Linked DNA regions of Homo sapiens: region 2 is linked to region 1. The links come from fine-mapping of genetic effects on gene expression. Tissue or cell type: whole blood. Region 1 holds a variant in brackets; the other region holds the start of a gene. All regions are shown on one strand. Distances are from middle to middle.

Region 1 (8,259 bases):
ACACAAAATCCTTTTATGTTGAACATACGATTGTCACCAGCTACTTTTCTGTTCTTACAAATCATAGCAAGAATTTAAATTGATGAACCAAATTAATAAAGCTTAATTTTTAAATTTTTAAATTTTGAAACCGAATATGTACAACATAACTTGAATAATAATAATAATAATTATTATTAAAATGGGCTGGAGTGCCCATTTTTTGGGTTTCTCAATTCAGTTATTTTTATTTTTTTAATTTTTATTAATCCCTTAATACTCCCTTCAGGGCAATCAATTCAGTTTCTACAACAAGACATCTTAGTAGTCATTCTGATAAGCTCTTTTTTCTCAGGAAGCAGTTAAGCACAACGTAACACCTTTTGCTTGTTTCATTGTTCTTTTTCTAGCCAGTCCTTCTGTAAAAATCTGATACTGAGCTGGGCACGGTGGCTCATGCCTGTAATCCCAGCACTTTGGGAGGCCAAGGTGGGTGGATCGCCTGAGGTCAGGAGTTCGAGACCAGCCTTGCCAGCATTGTGAAACCCTGTCTCTACTAAAAATACAAAAAATTAGCTGGGCGTGGTAGTGGGCGCCTGTCATCCCAGCTACTAGGGAGGCTGAGGCAGGAGAATCACTTGAACCTGGGAGGCGAAGGTTGCAGGTAGCCGAGATCGCGCCATTGCACCTCCAGCCTTGGCAACAGGAGCAAAAAAACTCTGTCTCAAAGAAAAAAAAAAAGTGATACTGATTATATATTATGTACTTAAAGCCTTGTACCTGCATGAGGACAAAAAATATACAGTTTAAGACATGACTATATCTTCATTTCCATGATCTTTCCCACAATAAGTAGAAAGATAAGTGTCCTTCTATATTTTAAAATGACTCCATTGTTCTAAAGTGTATATTTATGCAAGGAGTAATTTGCCCTGCTGTGTAATTACTGTAAGAACAGAAGTATGTATCCAAAACAAAGCAACCTTAACCAGCAAATAGGCTTTAATTATTGTGAGAACCTCAGCGGGGGTAGCAACCCAGGACCTAATTTTAAAACTAGAAGCAGTGAGGATGAGAAGTGAGGCAGTGGAAATAGCTCTGAGCTCTCAGAATCTGTAAGTCATAAGGAAAAAAATAGATAAAAGATGTATTTGATAATTATGCTGAAGGAATAAAAATAATTTAAAACATTTCATAGAAGCATATAGTGATGGGCGAGGGGAAACTTAAATCATCATCCCGGGGCAGCCACGGCGGCTCCATGCGTGAGGCTGGTGCCACGCGGTCTCCCGGTGTTGGCATTGTCTCCAGGCCTTCTCCTCAGTTCTGCACACAGCTACAAAACAAAAGAACAGTTGCCAGCACTTGGAAGAGGATGTGGATCCAAACCAAATGGAGGACAGATACTCCCTCTATGGACAAGATACTCATGGAAGAAGTCAAGTTAGAAGAGCAGCTGAAGGAGGCTGTGGAAGAAGATAAGCAAGCACTGGCAGATACTGAGGGCTCAGAGCAGAGCAGCCAAAAATTGGTGGAGGAGGGAAATATGTATAGCATTCAGGGCTTCTGCAAGGACTCGTTAGAGGTTGCAGATGTTTTGGAGAAGGCAACACAGTGTGTTCCAGAAGAAGAAATTAAAGACAATAACCCTCACCTGAAGAACCTCTCTCTGTGAGACTCACAATGAGTGAAGTCCAGATTCAGGAAGTGTTCAGCAAGCACTGCCAAGATGAACTCTGTCACAGCAAGTTCCACCCTTATGAGCGTGAGGGTCTTTTTTTGTCTTTGTTCACATCCGACAGGCAATGTGCCAGTGTTGTAACAAGGTGTGAGTGAGGCATATCTCACACGTGAAAACCTAGTCATCACACTCCCAGTGCTTTGGGAGGCTGAGGCAGGCGGATCACTTGAGGTCAAGAGTTACAGACCAACCTGGCCCTCATGGCGAAACTCTGTGTCTACTAAAAATACAAAAATTAGCCAGGCGTGGTGGCGTACGCCTGTAGTCCCAGCTACTCAGGAGACTGAGGCAGGGGAATTGCTTTAACCTGGGAGGCGGAGGTTTCAGTGAGCCAAGTTTGCACCGCTGCACTCCAGCCTGGGCAACAGAGTGAGACTCCGTCTCCAAAAAAAAAAATACTTTGCAGGTCAGTATAAACACTTAAAATATCATTTGAATTACCGTGTTACATTATTTATTATAGAAAAACAAGGAAACAAATATACCATATGATATTTTTGTGAGGGGGTAAAAAGCAAGAATTTGTGAAGCGGGGATGTTTCTAAATCCAGCAGAGTTTTTAATACATTCTAAAATGAAAGTCATCACATCTAGATGAGATTTGGGTAAAAAATGAAAATACAGAACAGTGATATCAGCCAGAGATTTGAGAAATAGATTTAATTTCTCAGGAGCAAGTTACATGACACCTGTGAGGACGAGGGGGAACAAGGTTGTGCTTTACTAACTGCTGATGGTGATGACAGATACACTTGTATAGAGTTTTAGTTCTGTGTTTCATACCATGCACCTTACATTCCAGCCAAATTAAAGAGCTTGACATGAAAAAATTGAGAAGAAAGTAGATTAGGATATGAGCTGGGTATGGTGGCTCATGCCTATAATCCCATCACTTTGGGAGGCCGAGGCAGCCAGATGAGTTGAGGCTAGGAGTTTGAGAGCAGCCTGGTCAACATGGGGAAACTCCATCACTACTAAAAATATAAAAATTATCTGAGTGTTGTAGTAGGTGCCTGTAATCCTAGCTACTCAGGAGGCTGAGGCAGGAGGATCACTTGAACCGGGAGGTGGAGGTTGCACTGAGCCAAGATCACACCATTGTACTCCTTAGGGACAGAGTGAGACTATCTCAAAAAAAAAAAAAAAAAAAAAAAAAATTAGCTTGGGCGTGGTGGTTCCTGCCTGTAATTCCAGCTACTTGGGAGGCCAAGGCAGGAGAATCGCTTGAACCAGGGAGGCAGAGGTTACAATGAGATCACACCACTGCAGCCTGTGTGAGAGAGCGAGACTCCGTCTCGGGGGAAAAAAAAGAAAAGAAAAGAAAAATATATATATATATATGAACAGTACCTTAGGATACGTATTTCAGCTGTAGAGAGAAGCAAAAATTGAACTATCAAAAAATTGTTTTACCTGGGCATGGTGGCTCACACCTATAATCCCAGCACTTTTAGAGGTCAAGGCAGGAGGATCAGTTAAGCCCAGGAGTTTGAGACAAGACTGGGCAACATAGTGAGACCTTGTTTCTATATATTAAAAAACAAATAAAATAAAAAGAGAAATAAAATTAAAAACTTACAAAAAATGTGTTTGTTTGGTTTGTTTGTTTTTGAGACAGAGTGTCGCTCTGCCGCCCAGGCTGGAGTGCAACGGCGCAATCTTGGCTGACTGCAACCTCCACCTCTCGGGTTCAAGCGATTGTCCTGCCTCAGCCTCCCGAGTAGCTGGATTTCAGGTGTGCAGTAGCCTGCCCAGCTAATTTTTGTATTTTTAGTAGAGACGGGGTTTTGCCATGTTGGCCAGGCTGGTCTTGAACTCCTGACCTAAGGTGATCTGCCCGCCTCGGCCTCCCAAAGTTCTGGGATTACAGGTGTGAGGCACTGCGCCTGGCCAAAAGAATTGTTTTTAATGACCAGATAAAAGGCTTAATAATATTAACTTTTTAAAAATCTGTGCAATAAAAAACATGGGAAGTCATGAATATAAATAAGAGCTTAATACAGTGAAATATCTAAACTTTACTAAAGGTAGTACCTAGGCTTTTATAGATGAGGGATCAATTTTAATTCAGCCAAATGACATGTATATGAGTAACTAGTTGACAGTGATTAGGGCTGCAGTCAAGGTGATCACAAAGTGCCATGAGTGCTTGGCCATTTTCACTGAGGGAATGAGGTGACTGCCTCTGACCCCAAGTGTCCTGCCATCCTTTTAGAGTTAAGCCAGACGGTCAGACTGCTGTGGGCTTCCACAGGATGTATTGGCGCTTGGCGTGTGATGTCAGTGGCCTGTGTAGATGAGGTCTGAGACAGCCAGTTCTGGGGGTTTGTTCTTGGCCTTATTCATGCTCTTCTACTGTGACATCCTTGTGAGAACCCTTGGGAGAAATTTCTGATTTTGGTGTCAGAATTTCACCTGAAGAATTAGTTTGCTTTCATGTTTTGAACCCTGAATTATGTGACTGTTTTCATCTTAGTGATGGTTGCTAAAAAGTTTAGTTAGAGACAGATGTATGGGCTGACTCTTGACTAATTTAGACATATTCCAGGAGAACATTTCTGTCTTGTCATCTGTGGCTCTGCTTCAGGTCTCTCTCCATGTGTGATTTTTTTTTTTTTTTTTTTTTGATGTGGAGTCTCACTCTGTTGCCCAGGCTGGAGTGCAGTGGTGCAGTCTCGGCTCACTGCAAGCTCCGCCTCCCAGGTTCACACCATTCTCCTGCCTCAGCCTCCTGAGTAGCTGGGACTACAGGCGCCAGCCACCACGCCCAGATAATTTTGTTTTTGTATTTTTAATATAGACGGAGTTTCACCATGTTAGCCAGGATGGTCTCGATCTCCTGACCTTGTGATCTGCCCGCCTTGGCCTCCCAAAGTGTTGGGATTACAGGCGTGAGCCACCACACCCAGCCTAAAGTTTTTAAAGAATTTTTAAAATATCTATCATAATCTGTCTGTCTATCTATGTATCTCTCTCTCTCT[C/A]TCTATCTATCTATCTATCTGTCTTTACTGGAGGTGGGGTCTCACTATGTTGCCCAGGCTGGTCTTGAACTCCTAGGCTCAATCGATCCTCTAGCTGCAGCCTTCCAGAGCACTGGGATTACAGTTATTTGTTATTCTTTTTATTTTCTAGTCTGTTGTGCTGAACTGCATTTATCTTTTAAATAGACTTTAAATATTCTTTGGCAGAAAGTGAGGAATACATACGTATGTTCTACATATAAAATCAGTAAAATCAAATACAAATTATCAAGCCCAATGTTGTAAGGGCCATAGGGAAATAAGCGCATACACGTGGTTAATGACAGTGTGCACTGAGTTTCTGAGGAGTGTGGCTAGCAATAGATACTTAGCACTATAAAGTTGTTTATTCTTATTAAGAGGTTAATGCCACTTTTGGAGATGTATCACAGAGAAGTAACCCAAAAGAAGATAGTCCTTACAAAATTATTTATAGCTATGATGCACAACAGTGAAAGAGGGGAATCAACCTAAATGCACAGTGGTAGAGGAGAGTCGAATAAGTCAGTTAATATAATGGAATGTTATAAAGCCACCAAAAATGTTCAGTGGGTTAGATAAATAGAAGTGTCCATAAAATACGTAAATTATCAAAACATGCATTAAATCTATTTAATAATATGTAGATGTAGCAAAAAGAATGAGATGGTCATGGTGAGACTGCTAGGTAGGAAGGGGTCCCCGGAAAAACTCCAACCGGCCTGTGCAGTGGGGTGGAGCTCCCCGGAAAAACTCCAACCGGCCTGTGCACTGGGGTGGAACTTCAGGATGTTTGCACTGTTGATAGTGGGGAGGAGCCTGGCACGTCTTCTTACTGTGTAAAACCCAGTATTCTAGCTGCTGGCGGAAAGCACTCTAGCAGGGACTCTGGCCTTGTGAGAGTCCCAATAAAACCCTGTCTTACTCACTATTCAAACCGTCTGCGAGCCTAAATTTTTGTGGCCTTGAGACGGACAAGGACCCCATCTTTAGCTGAACTAAGGAAAAATCCTGCAACAGTGGATATTGGAAATAATATTAATGGATAGATTTTACTCTCCTGAAGGATTAATATAATCTGTGAGTACTTTTAGGCTTACTGCCAGTACAAGGAGTGGCTTACTTACTACCGGTACAAGGAGTATATATACTCTCTTGAGCTTTTCTGTCTGTTTGGCTATTTCAGTGCCTCCAGAAAGGGTTGAGAAGATAATGGATCAGATTGAAAAGTACATCATGACTCATCTCTGTAAATATGCGTTCTGTCCAGAACCCCAGTGAGCCTGGAAGACTGGGTGCTATGGGAAATGTCATCAATCCAATGCTAGTGAAAGATGTGACTGGGGAATGCTGAAAAATGCGCACCCCTGGGAGGAATGAGGAAAGATGACATCCACTGACTTGTTATTTTTTTGAGAAGGAGTCTTGCTCTGTTGCCCAGGCTGGAGTGTGGTGGCACGATCTCGGCTCACTGATGATGAGAAGAAAGATCTTGCCATTCAAAAGAGGATCAGGTAGTTGCTTATTTTGTTTTGCTTTATACTTACTACCTACTAATGGAAGAATACATTGGGGGAAATAAGGCACCTGAGTTTCAAACCTTAAGAGAAAGCAACAGCTCATGTTTCTGCTTCCTTAGAGTGGAAGCTTCTCTGTGGTGTCAGAAAGACGAGGAATGTGGTGACCTCACCTATCCATCTCCCTCAAGGCAGCTTTTGGTAAGTTGTGTTTGGTGTTTGAGATTGTTTTCAATCTCTGAAATCTCCAAGGAATAGGGGGACTGTGTTCTTGGTCCATTAACATTTCCTCAAGCAGGAAGCTGTGAATATCTGTATCAAGGCAGGGGATGTCGGCTGGGCCTGGTGGCTCATACCTGTAATCCCAGCACTATGGGAGGCTGAGGTGGGTGGATCACTTGAGGCTGGGAGTTCAAGAGTAGCCTGGACAACATGGTAAAACCCCGTCTCTACTAAAAATACAAAAATTAGCCAGGCATGGTGGCGCAGGCCTGTGATCCCAGCTGTTTGGGAGGCTAAGGCACGAGAATGGCTTGAATCCAGGAGGCGGAGGTTGCAGTGAGCCGAGATTGCGCCACTGCACTCCAGCCTGGCGACAGAGACTCTGTCTCAAAAATATAAATACAAAATTATATATCTATGTGTATGTATATGTGTGTGTATAAACGTGTGTGTGTGTGTGTATATATATATATATATATGTACTGGGTGCCTACTCTATGGTTGGGGCCTATTCTAGATGCTGATACAGTTAATAAAGATCTTTGCCCTCGTGGGGCTTATAGTCTAGTGGGAGAGACAGGCATAAACAAGATAAATAAGTATAATGCATATTATGTTATATGGTGGTAAATGCTAAGGAAAATAATCAAAATTCTCCATATGTTATTAGCTCATAGCACAGGGGTTAAGAGCTTGGGTCCAGGAGGTAGACTTGGAGTTTGAATTCTAGTTCTGCAACTTATTAACCATGTGATTTTGGGCAGGCTGCATTGCGTCTCCAAGCCTCAGTTTCTTCACCTGTAAAACATAAAAAACAATAGTTTCTGCATCAAAAGTTGTCAGGATTAATTGAGTTAATACAGACAGAGAACTAAGAATAGGATGGCAGGGGTGTGAGAAGTCACGGGCTTCAGGGTTCCTAAAGGTTACTGAACTCTGAGACTAAGTTTAGGCTGGTGACCAGGGTCCCAGCACTGGGGTTCATGGAGCTTGGAGGGAGAGGACCCCTGTCGAGACACATCACAGGGGCCTCGGCATGGCAGTGTGCAGTGGAGTCTCAGCACTCTTCAGGATTTAAGCCTAGGTCTAACCTGCTGCGGAGCACAGGGAAGCCACTTCTGTTTCACCTTGAGGCAAGAACAAGGGAAGACCCTGGCCCTTGATTACACTGATAGATAAAACAGAGGAAGTGGATTTGGAAATAATCCACTCATTATATTTTGCGAACTAACAGAGCCTCCACATCAAATTGAGTGGTGATTTATTAAAGGGAAGCCAAGGCCAGGCACGGTGGCTCATGCCTGTAATCCCAGCACTTTGGGAGGATTAGGCGGGTGGATCACTTGAGGTCAGGAGTTCAAGACCAGCCTGGTCAATATGGTGAAACCCCCTATCTACTAAAAGTACAAAAAATTAAATGGGTATTGTGGCAGGCACCTGTAATCCCAGCTACTTGGGAGCCTGAGGCAGGAGAATCGCTTGAACCCAGGAGGTAGAGGTTGCAGTGAGCCAAGATAGCGCCATTGCACTCCAGCCTGGGCAACGAGTGAAACTCTGTCTCAAAGAAAATTAAAATAAATAAAGAGAAGCCACATGGAGGGGTGGAGAGGGAATACTAGCATCAGATGAGCCTGGGTGCTAATTGAAGCTTTACCTTTTTCAGTAATTGGGCAAGTTAGTCAACCCTCTGAGATTGACTTTTCTATGTAAAGTAGCTGTTCCTGTGGATGACTTAAGGGGAGTGCAAACAAAAGTCATCAGAGTTGATGTATGACTCAACTCAGAGTTGAGGATGAAAAGT
Region 2 (8,000 bases), 62 kb after region 1:
ACTGCTGCAATGAGTGTATCTTTTTTTTTTTTTTTTTTTTTGAGATAGGGTCTCCCTCTCTCACCCAGGCTGGAGTGCAGTGGTGCGATCTTGGCTCACTGCAACCTCTGCATTTTCGGTTCAAGCCATCCTCCCCACCTTAGCTGTAGCTGGGACTACAGGTACACACCACTCATTTTGTAGAAATGAGGTTTTGCCACACTGCCCAGGCTGGTCTCAAACTTCTGAGCTCAAGTGCTGGGATTATAGGTGTAAGCTACCATGCCCAGACTGTCTCTATCTTTATCTAACAAAGAATTAATCTCTACCAAGAAATGGACCGACCTGTGCCCTCGCTAGGGTGCTTAAATGGATGGGTCCCATGTGTACATAAGGTGAACACAACATGGGGGAGGGAGGGGAAGAAGACTGCCTCACTGGTTTCTTTGCTTTCACTTTGTCAAGGTGATGTCACTGTTTGTATATTACAGGATGTCACCAACTTAATTTTTACAAAACCACAATCCTTAAGTAGTATAATCTTTACATGCTTTGCAATGAGATGAAAATCTTTGGTGGCCCGGAGGTTAGATCATGATCTCCTTGTCAAAGAGCTGTCTTCCAGACCCGCTGACCTTTGCTGGGTGGCAGAGTGGCTATCAACAGCACACTGCTTGGCAACTGTGTTGAAAACCGACATATGTTAACACTGCCTTCATTTATAAGTTTTAACACTTTATAACGTGTTATGGTTTGTTTTAAAATTTCTACTTGAGTTTATATTGTAATGTATATATTAGTACATATACCTATAAGTAAATACATTGGGGCTATGTGCTTCCTACGCTTTTACTGTTAAAGATACAGGATCCAGCTAGGCGTGGTGGCTCACGCGTTTAATCCTAGCACTTTGGGAGGCTGAGATGGGCGCATCACCTGAGGTCGGGAGTTTGAGACCAGCCTGACCAACATGGAGAAACCCTGTCTCTACTAAAAATACAAAATTAGCCAGGCATGGTGGCGCATGCCTGTAATCCCAGCTACTCGGAAGGCTGAGGCAGGAGAATGGCTTGAACCTGGGAGGCGGAGGTTGCGGTGAGCTGAGATCGCACCATTGCACTCCAGCCTGGGCAACAAGAGCGGAACTCCGTCTCAAAAAAAAAAAAAAAAAAAATCCAAAGTCTGGAGACCACTGCACCATGGGCTCAAGCCCATCTTTCTTTCTGCTTTCATCAGCTGCCTTCTCAACAATGTCGCTTGTATGCCCAACAGGCATTTTAAATTGAACATATGAAAAACTGAGATCCTGGCCGGGTGTGGTGGCTCACGTCTATAATCCCAGTACCTTGGGAGGCCAAGACAGGTGGATCACCTGAGGTCAGGAGTTTGAGACCAGCCTGGCCAACATGGCGAAACCCCATCTCTACTGAAAATACAAAAAAAAATTAGTTGGGCGTGGTGGCAGCACCTGTAATCCCAGCTACTCAGGAGGCTGAGGTGAGAGAACCACTTGAACCCAGGAGGCGGAGGCTGCAGTGAGCCGAGATCACGCCACTGTACTCCAGCCTGGGCAACAGAGCGAGACTCTCAGTAAATAAATAAAAACTGAACTCCTGATATCTTCTCCCTGGTTAAACCCACTCTCTTCTATAAGTCTTGCCTATTTCAGCCCAACTCCAAGGCCCAAAACCTTGGTGTCATCCCCGACCCCTTATCTAATCACACATCAGCAAATCCTTCTGGTACCATCAATGAATACCCAGAATTCAATCATTTCTTACCACCTGCACCTAGATAACCACAATGAACTCCTAACCTACCTTTCTCTCACTCCTAAGACCATCTTGTTAAAATGGAAGGAAGAGCAAGTCATTACGCAGCTGAAAACCCTCAACTGGCCGCCCCATTTCTGAGAAAATACCAAAGTTTTACAAGGCCTGTTCTGTTACCTCCACTGCCTTCTCTGGAACTACCCTAGCCTCATTTTCTCAAACCTTCAAGGCATGCCCCATGCTTCTCCAAGGGCTCTCAGCTACATCCTGAGACATATCCCTTACCTGCAATACTCTTTCCATATGATGTGATCTCTGCTTCCTTCAGACTTTACTCAAACATCTCACTCTGCGTGAGGCCTACCCTGGCTGATGTAAAACTGCTACCCTCGGCTGGGAGTGGTGGCTCACGCCTGTAATCCCAGCACTTTGGGAGGCCAAGGAGGGTGGATCACTTAAGGCCAGGAGTTTGAGACCAGCCTGGCCAACATGGTGAAACCCCATCTCTACTAAAACTACAAAAATTACCCAGCTGTCGTAGCCCTTGCCTGTGATTCCCACCTACTCGGGAGGATGAGGCAGGAGGATAGCTTGAGCCCAAGAGTTGGTTGCAGTGAGCCAAGATGGCGCCACTGCACTCCATCCTGGGCAACAGAGTGGGACTCTGTCAGGTCCATCCTGGCCAACATGGTGAAACCCCATCTCTACTAAAAACACAAAAATTAGCTGGGCACGGTGGTGCGCGCCTGTAGTCCCAGCTATTCGGGAGGCTGAGGCAGGAGAATCGCTCCAACCTGGGAGGTGGAGGCTGCAGTGAACCGAGATCACGCCACTGCACTCCAGCCTGTCGACAGGGCGAGGCACTGCATCAAAAAAAGTAAATAAAATTGGTACCCTCTTCCCTAACACAAGCACCCTACAATCCCCATTTTTCTTGCATGTTCATCACTATTTTAAGATACTTTATAATGAGTGGGGCAATAAGTAAAATATCTAGTAATTTCCGTGAGAGCAGGGACTTCTGTGTTTTGTTCACCGCTGTATTTCCAGTACCTAGCTCAATAAATATGTCGGATATCTGAAGGTCCTACCAAAACTCAACCTCTCCCTGGACACCCCTGTCCTCTCTTTGGTTGGCTGCCCCTCCCCCACACCTCATCCCTCCTGTCCTGTTTACTCATTCCCTAAGACCTTCATCGCCTCCACCTGTCCTAAGTTTACTCATTCCCTAAGACCTTCATCGCTTCCACCTGTCCTAAGTTTACTCATTCCTGTCCCATATCAAGTGTCACTTCTCACTTATCTTGGTATCCCCTGCAGCACCCAGCATAGTTGTTGGCAAGCACAGGTACTTAATGTACTTATCTGTATACAGCTGGGCCCCCACTTCACCGCAGCGCAAAAGCATTTGGTACATTCAACTTACAATGGGGTTGCCTGTGGGAACCCATTGCAAGTTGAAAATACACAAAGTTAAACTCGCCTTTTGACTTAGGATATTACCAACTTGCGATGGGTATGGGAAGTAGCCATCAATCCAGGAGCATTTGTATTTATTTTTCAAATGAACTGGATGTACAGGAAACTCGAGAACTTCGATGATAAATTTGGATTCCCCTTTAAAATTACCTCCCTCTTGGGCGTCGTAATTAAAAGGCAATGCGAGCACCTCCTGGGTTCTCAAAATTAGGTTTAATTAGATTCACCTGGTAAAAATGCGGACCCCCCCCCCCCCCCCCGCAGTCTTAAGCTTCTTCAATGAACCCAGACGTCTGTTTTTTATTAGCTTTCTGGTGATTCTGACACACTGCAGAGTTTAAGAACCACCATTCTAGAAGATGGCTAAAAATAGCCTAGGCTCCTAGGCTTAAGTGGTCGCGGGCCAAGTCAAGCACTGTTAAGACACCTGGCGGCAGGCTCAGTCCGCCCACAGCAGGAGAGATCCTCCAAAAAGGTTAAGAGGAAGCCGTCTTCAGGTCAGAAGCGCTGAATTCTAATCCTCTGGCCAAATGACTGTAACCCTGGCCCAGTTCTCTAGCCTCGGTTTGTCCATACTATGGAATTAGGAAGTATACGATTTCTTTTATTCACGCACAACTCACACGGATGCTGCAAGGAGATTAGCTACGTCAAAGCAATGGAACGCTGCAGAAAAAAACGTAAGTTTACTTTCAGATGCAGAGCCCTGGTTTCCCAACCTTGAAGGCGTGCAAGCCAAGAGCAGGTCCTCTGGGAAATCTGGGAGACCTGGGGGAACCCTGACAAATGGACCGGCCCTGGAGCGGGACTACCTCGCCCCCTTTTCCCCGGCTTTCTCCCCCGCACCTCCAGGCCAGTGTCAGGGCCTGCCCCGGGCGCCACAGTCTCCAGCCAGTGCCGGGCATCCCTGCGGTCCAGGCTGGCCTGGAGAGGGTCAGAGCTGCCCGCGAACCGGGGACGCACGTGGCCCGGGCCGGGGGGCCTCCGCCTGCAGGCCGCCCCTCGTCTGGCCTACCTGGGCCGAGGTGCTGAAGCTGCGGCGGAGAGCAGCGCTGGCAGGCCGGGCGAGGGCGGAGAGCATGGCTGGAGCGGGAGGGGCACCGACTGGCAGGCACAGGAGCTGGTGACGGGGAAGTGACTCCAACGACCTCCACACTGCCCAGCGCCTGCTCTCTGGGGCCTCGCGAGAGTGACCGGACTTCCGGTCGCGCTCGCCTCCGGGATCTCGTGAGATCACGGCCACTTCCGGGAGTCGGAAAGGAAAGCTGTGGGACCATCCTGGCAACCCCGGTGTTTGGCTGGGTTCTAGCGTAGCCGTCTGTGTGGCCGGTGGGGGACCTGCGGTCGGAGTGGGAGGGCCAGTCTGCACCCAAGAGGTGGAAGAGGACGGGCTTTAGGCTGGAAGCGCCTTAGAGGAGCCATTTTTCCAGGTGGGGCCCCAGGCAGAGGCTCCGACAGGGAGCCTGGCCATAGTCGCGCAGCCGGGGAGGTGGAGCGCGTCCCAGACCCGAGCCCCCGACCTCAGCCAAACCCATTCCTTCTGCCCTTGGAGGCCAGAGGGGACTCTGAGCTCCGGAAAGGTAGGGTCAGGGAGGCTGAGAGTCCTTAGGCGGGGTGGGAGGAAGGGGCCATCTCCTCAGATCCGGGCCGTCGTTTCCCAAGTTGCAGAGACCCTTGGGTTCAGGTTTAGTGACACCACTGCTGATAATGGCGACCTCCAGCCCTGCAAGCTTTAGAGGACCACTATTCTGTGTTCCAGATGAGCAAATAGGTTGTAGGGACAACAACTTCCGTGGTCATACAGTTCCTGTCTTCTCTCGCCTGCCCGGCAGTGCTCTGACGGTCCCACTGTTTCTGCTTTACGAATAAAGACACTGTGGCTGAGGCCAAGTGGATTTGTAGAGTTTACGCAGACAGAAAGTCGAGTAGAATTCCTTGCTCACAATGAGTTTATTACTTAAATGTATGAATTTATTTATTTTTTTGAGACGGAGTCTCTCTAGCCCAGGCTGGAGTGCAGTGGCGCGATCTTGGCTCACTGCAACCTCTGCCTGTCAGGTTCAAGTGGTTCTCCTGCCTCATTCTCCTGAGTAGCTGGGATTAGCGCACCACTACACCTGGCTAATTTTTTGTATTTTTTTTTTAGTAGAGACGGGGTTTCACCACGTTGGTCAGGCTGGTCTCGAACTCCTGACCTCGTGATCCACCCGCCTCGGCCTCCCAAAGTGCTGAGATTACAGGCGTGAGCCACCGCGCCCGGCCTGATACATATTTTTAAAATTAAACAACACCCCCAGGCAAGGTGGCTCATGCCTGTAATCCCAGCACTCTGGGAGGCTGAGGCGGGCCGATCACTTGAGGCCAGGAGTTCATGACCAGCCTGGCTAACATGGTGAAACCCCATCTCTACTAAAAATACAAAAATTAGCCCAGCGTGGTGGTGTACACCTGTAGCCCCAACTACTCCGGAGGCTGAGGCAGGAGAATCGCTTGAACCCGGGAGGTGGAGGGAGGTTGCAGTGAGCCGAGATAACCCCACTGTACTCCAGCTTGGGCGACGGAGAAAGACTCTGTCTCAAAAAAAAAAAAAAAAAAAGCCGGGTGTGGTGGCTTATGCCTGTAATCCCAGCACTTTGGGAGGTCAAGGCGGGCAGATCACCTGAGGTCAGGAGTTTGAGACCAGACTGGCTAATGTGGCGAAACCCCATCTCTACTAAATATACAAAAATTGGCTGGGCATGGTGGCGTGTGCCTGTAGTCCCAGCTACTCAGGAGGCTGAGGCAGGAGAATCCCTTGAACCCAGGAGGTGGAGGTTGCTGTGAGCCAAGATTGTGCCATTGTACTCCATCCTGGGTGATAAGAGCTAAACTCCGGCTCAAAAGCGCGCGCGCGCGCGCGCGCACACACACACACACACACACACACACACACACACACACACACACACACACACACACACACACACAGCAGATAAGCTGAGACATGCTGGAAGAGTAGGTGTTTCTCAATGGAACATTCAACTCCAGAGGAGGGAAAGATCCCTTGCCTTGGAATCAGAATTCTCAAAGGAGGGGCACTAGGGCCTGAGCATTTAACAATGGGAAATGTTTAGACAGGAAAGGAGGAGAAAAAAGGCCAAATAAAATCCTAGCGGGAAAAAATAAGCATAGGCCAGTATTCAGGGGACAGTGAATAGATCATTTATTTTGGAGTGGGGACATTAGGGCAAGCAGTGTCCTTTGTTTATCTTATCACTGACTGCATCTTCTGGTAATTATTTACTCCTCTGTCTTGTAACTGAGAGCACCTCAGAGCCAGGTATTAAGTCTTGCCAGGTACTAAGTCTTTCTTCTGTTTTTTTTGTCCAACATGCGACTGGGCTGAAAGGGCCTCAGTGAATTTGTGGAGAGTTGAGTGGTTTTAGGTACAGCTGGAAACAGCAGGTTGGGAAAAACTAGATTGTGCCGGTCCCATGAATGTTAGCTGAGAAGTTTGTATTTCATTTCTTGGGAAGCAAGTGTTTATCAAAGGTTGTTTATTTATTTGAGATGGAGCCTCACGCTGTTGCCCAGGCTGCAGTGCAGTGGCGCGATCTCGGCTCACTGCAACCTCCACCTCCGGGTTCACGCAGTTCTCCTGCCTCAGCCTCCCAAGTAGCTGGGATTACAGGTGTGCACCACCACACCTGGCTAATTTTTGTATTTTTAGCAGAGACAGGGATTTGTCATGTTGGCCAGGCTGGTCTAGAACTCCTAACCTCAAGTGATCTGCCCGAGTCAGCCTCTCAAAGTGCTGGGATTATAGGCGTGAGCCACTGCACCTGGCCAATCAGGCTTTTGTGACACTGCCAGAACTGTGTTTGAGGAAGATTAGACTGACCTTGTATGCTAAGAATTCCCAGGAAAAAAAAAATGGAGATTGTTTAGGAATCTATTCAGGGAGATTGTTTAGGAATCTATTTTATGGATGACAAAGGTCTGAATTACGGTGGTGGCCATAGAAATGGAGTGGGTAGGGCCAGTGTGGGAGAAGTCTCATGGGAAGAATGGGTAACAGTCTGTGCTCATCTGGGTTTGAGGAGTGAAAGAAAGAGGTGTGGAAAATACATAAAGAGGGAAGTCGGGTTATACAAAGGAGAGGAGAAAAATAAAGGAGGTTATACCAAAGGAGAGGAGAAAAAATAAAGAGTTCCGTTTTAGATGGGCTTAATTGGGAGTTATGCTGAGTTGTCCATATAGACCTTTCAGTGGTATGGGCCGTGTTCATGCCTGTAATCCCAACACTTTGAGCAGCCAAGGCGGACGATCACTTGAGCTCAGGAATTCAGGACCAGCCTGGGTAACATGGCAAAACCCCATCTCTACAAAAAGTACGAAAATTCTCTGGGCGTGATGGTGTGTGCTTGTAGTCCCAGCTACCCAAGAGGCTGACATGAAACAATCGCTTGAGCTCAGGCGATCGGGGGAGGTCAAGGCTGTAGTGAGCCATGATTGTGCCACTGCATTCTGACATGGGTGACAGAGCAAGATATGTCTCATTTAAGGGGGGAAAAAAGGAACTGTGGGATTGAAACTCAGGCCAGGGCGGAAGTCACCTCTGTAGAGGGGGAGAGTTGAGACCATGAGCAATAAACTGGAATCACAGATTGTCAGGCTCCCTCCCACATCTGGAATTCAGTTTCCTCCACATCCCTCCCAAGTCCTCATCTCCACAGAAGAGGAACTCGCTACCTCCCAAGCCTTCTACTTGGGCCATCCCAAACAACTTGA

What was found. PIP is the estimated chance that this variant, and not a neighbour inherited with it, causes the effect.
Region 2: it holds the start of MDH2, and the variant in region 1 is fine-mapped to the expression of MDH2 in whole blood (TOPMed, PIP above 0.99).

What each region holds. Positions count from the first base shown.
Region 1 is chr7:76,106,409-76,114,667 of GRCh38, reverse strand. It overlaps LOC124901854 (small nucleolar RNA U13), which reads right to left and starts at 1,870; the gene lies at 1,772-1,870. It also overlaps the pseudogene GTF2IP7 and the pseudogene GRPEL1P3. The variant C/A (reference allele first, on the strand shown) is at 4,702.
Region 2 is chr7:76,044,472-76,052,471 of GRCh38, reverse strand. MDH2 (malate dehydrogenase 2) reads right to left here and starts at 4,366. Exons shown (of 9, transcript NM_005918.4): 1 at 4,246-4,366. The coding sequence starts at 4,311. STYXL1 (serine/threonine/tyrosine interacting like 1) reads left to right here and starts at 4,472. Exons shown (of 9, transcript NM_001317785.2): 1 at 4,472-4,810. RefSeq lists enhancers at 3,435-4,216, 4,492-4,571, 4,682-4,771, 4,217-4,999 and a silencer at 4,082-4,241.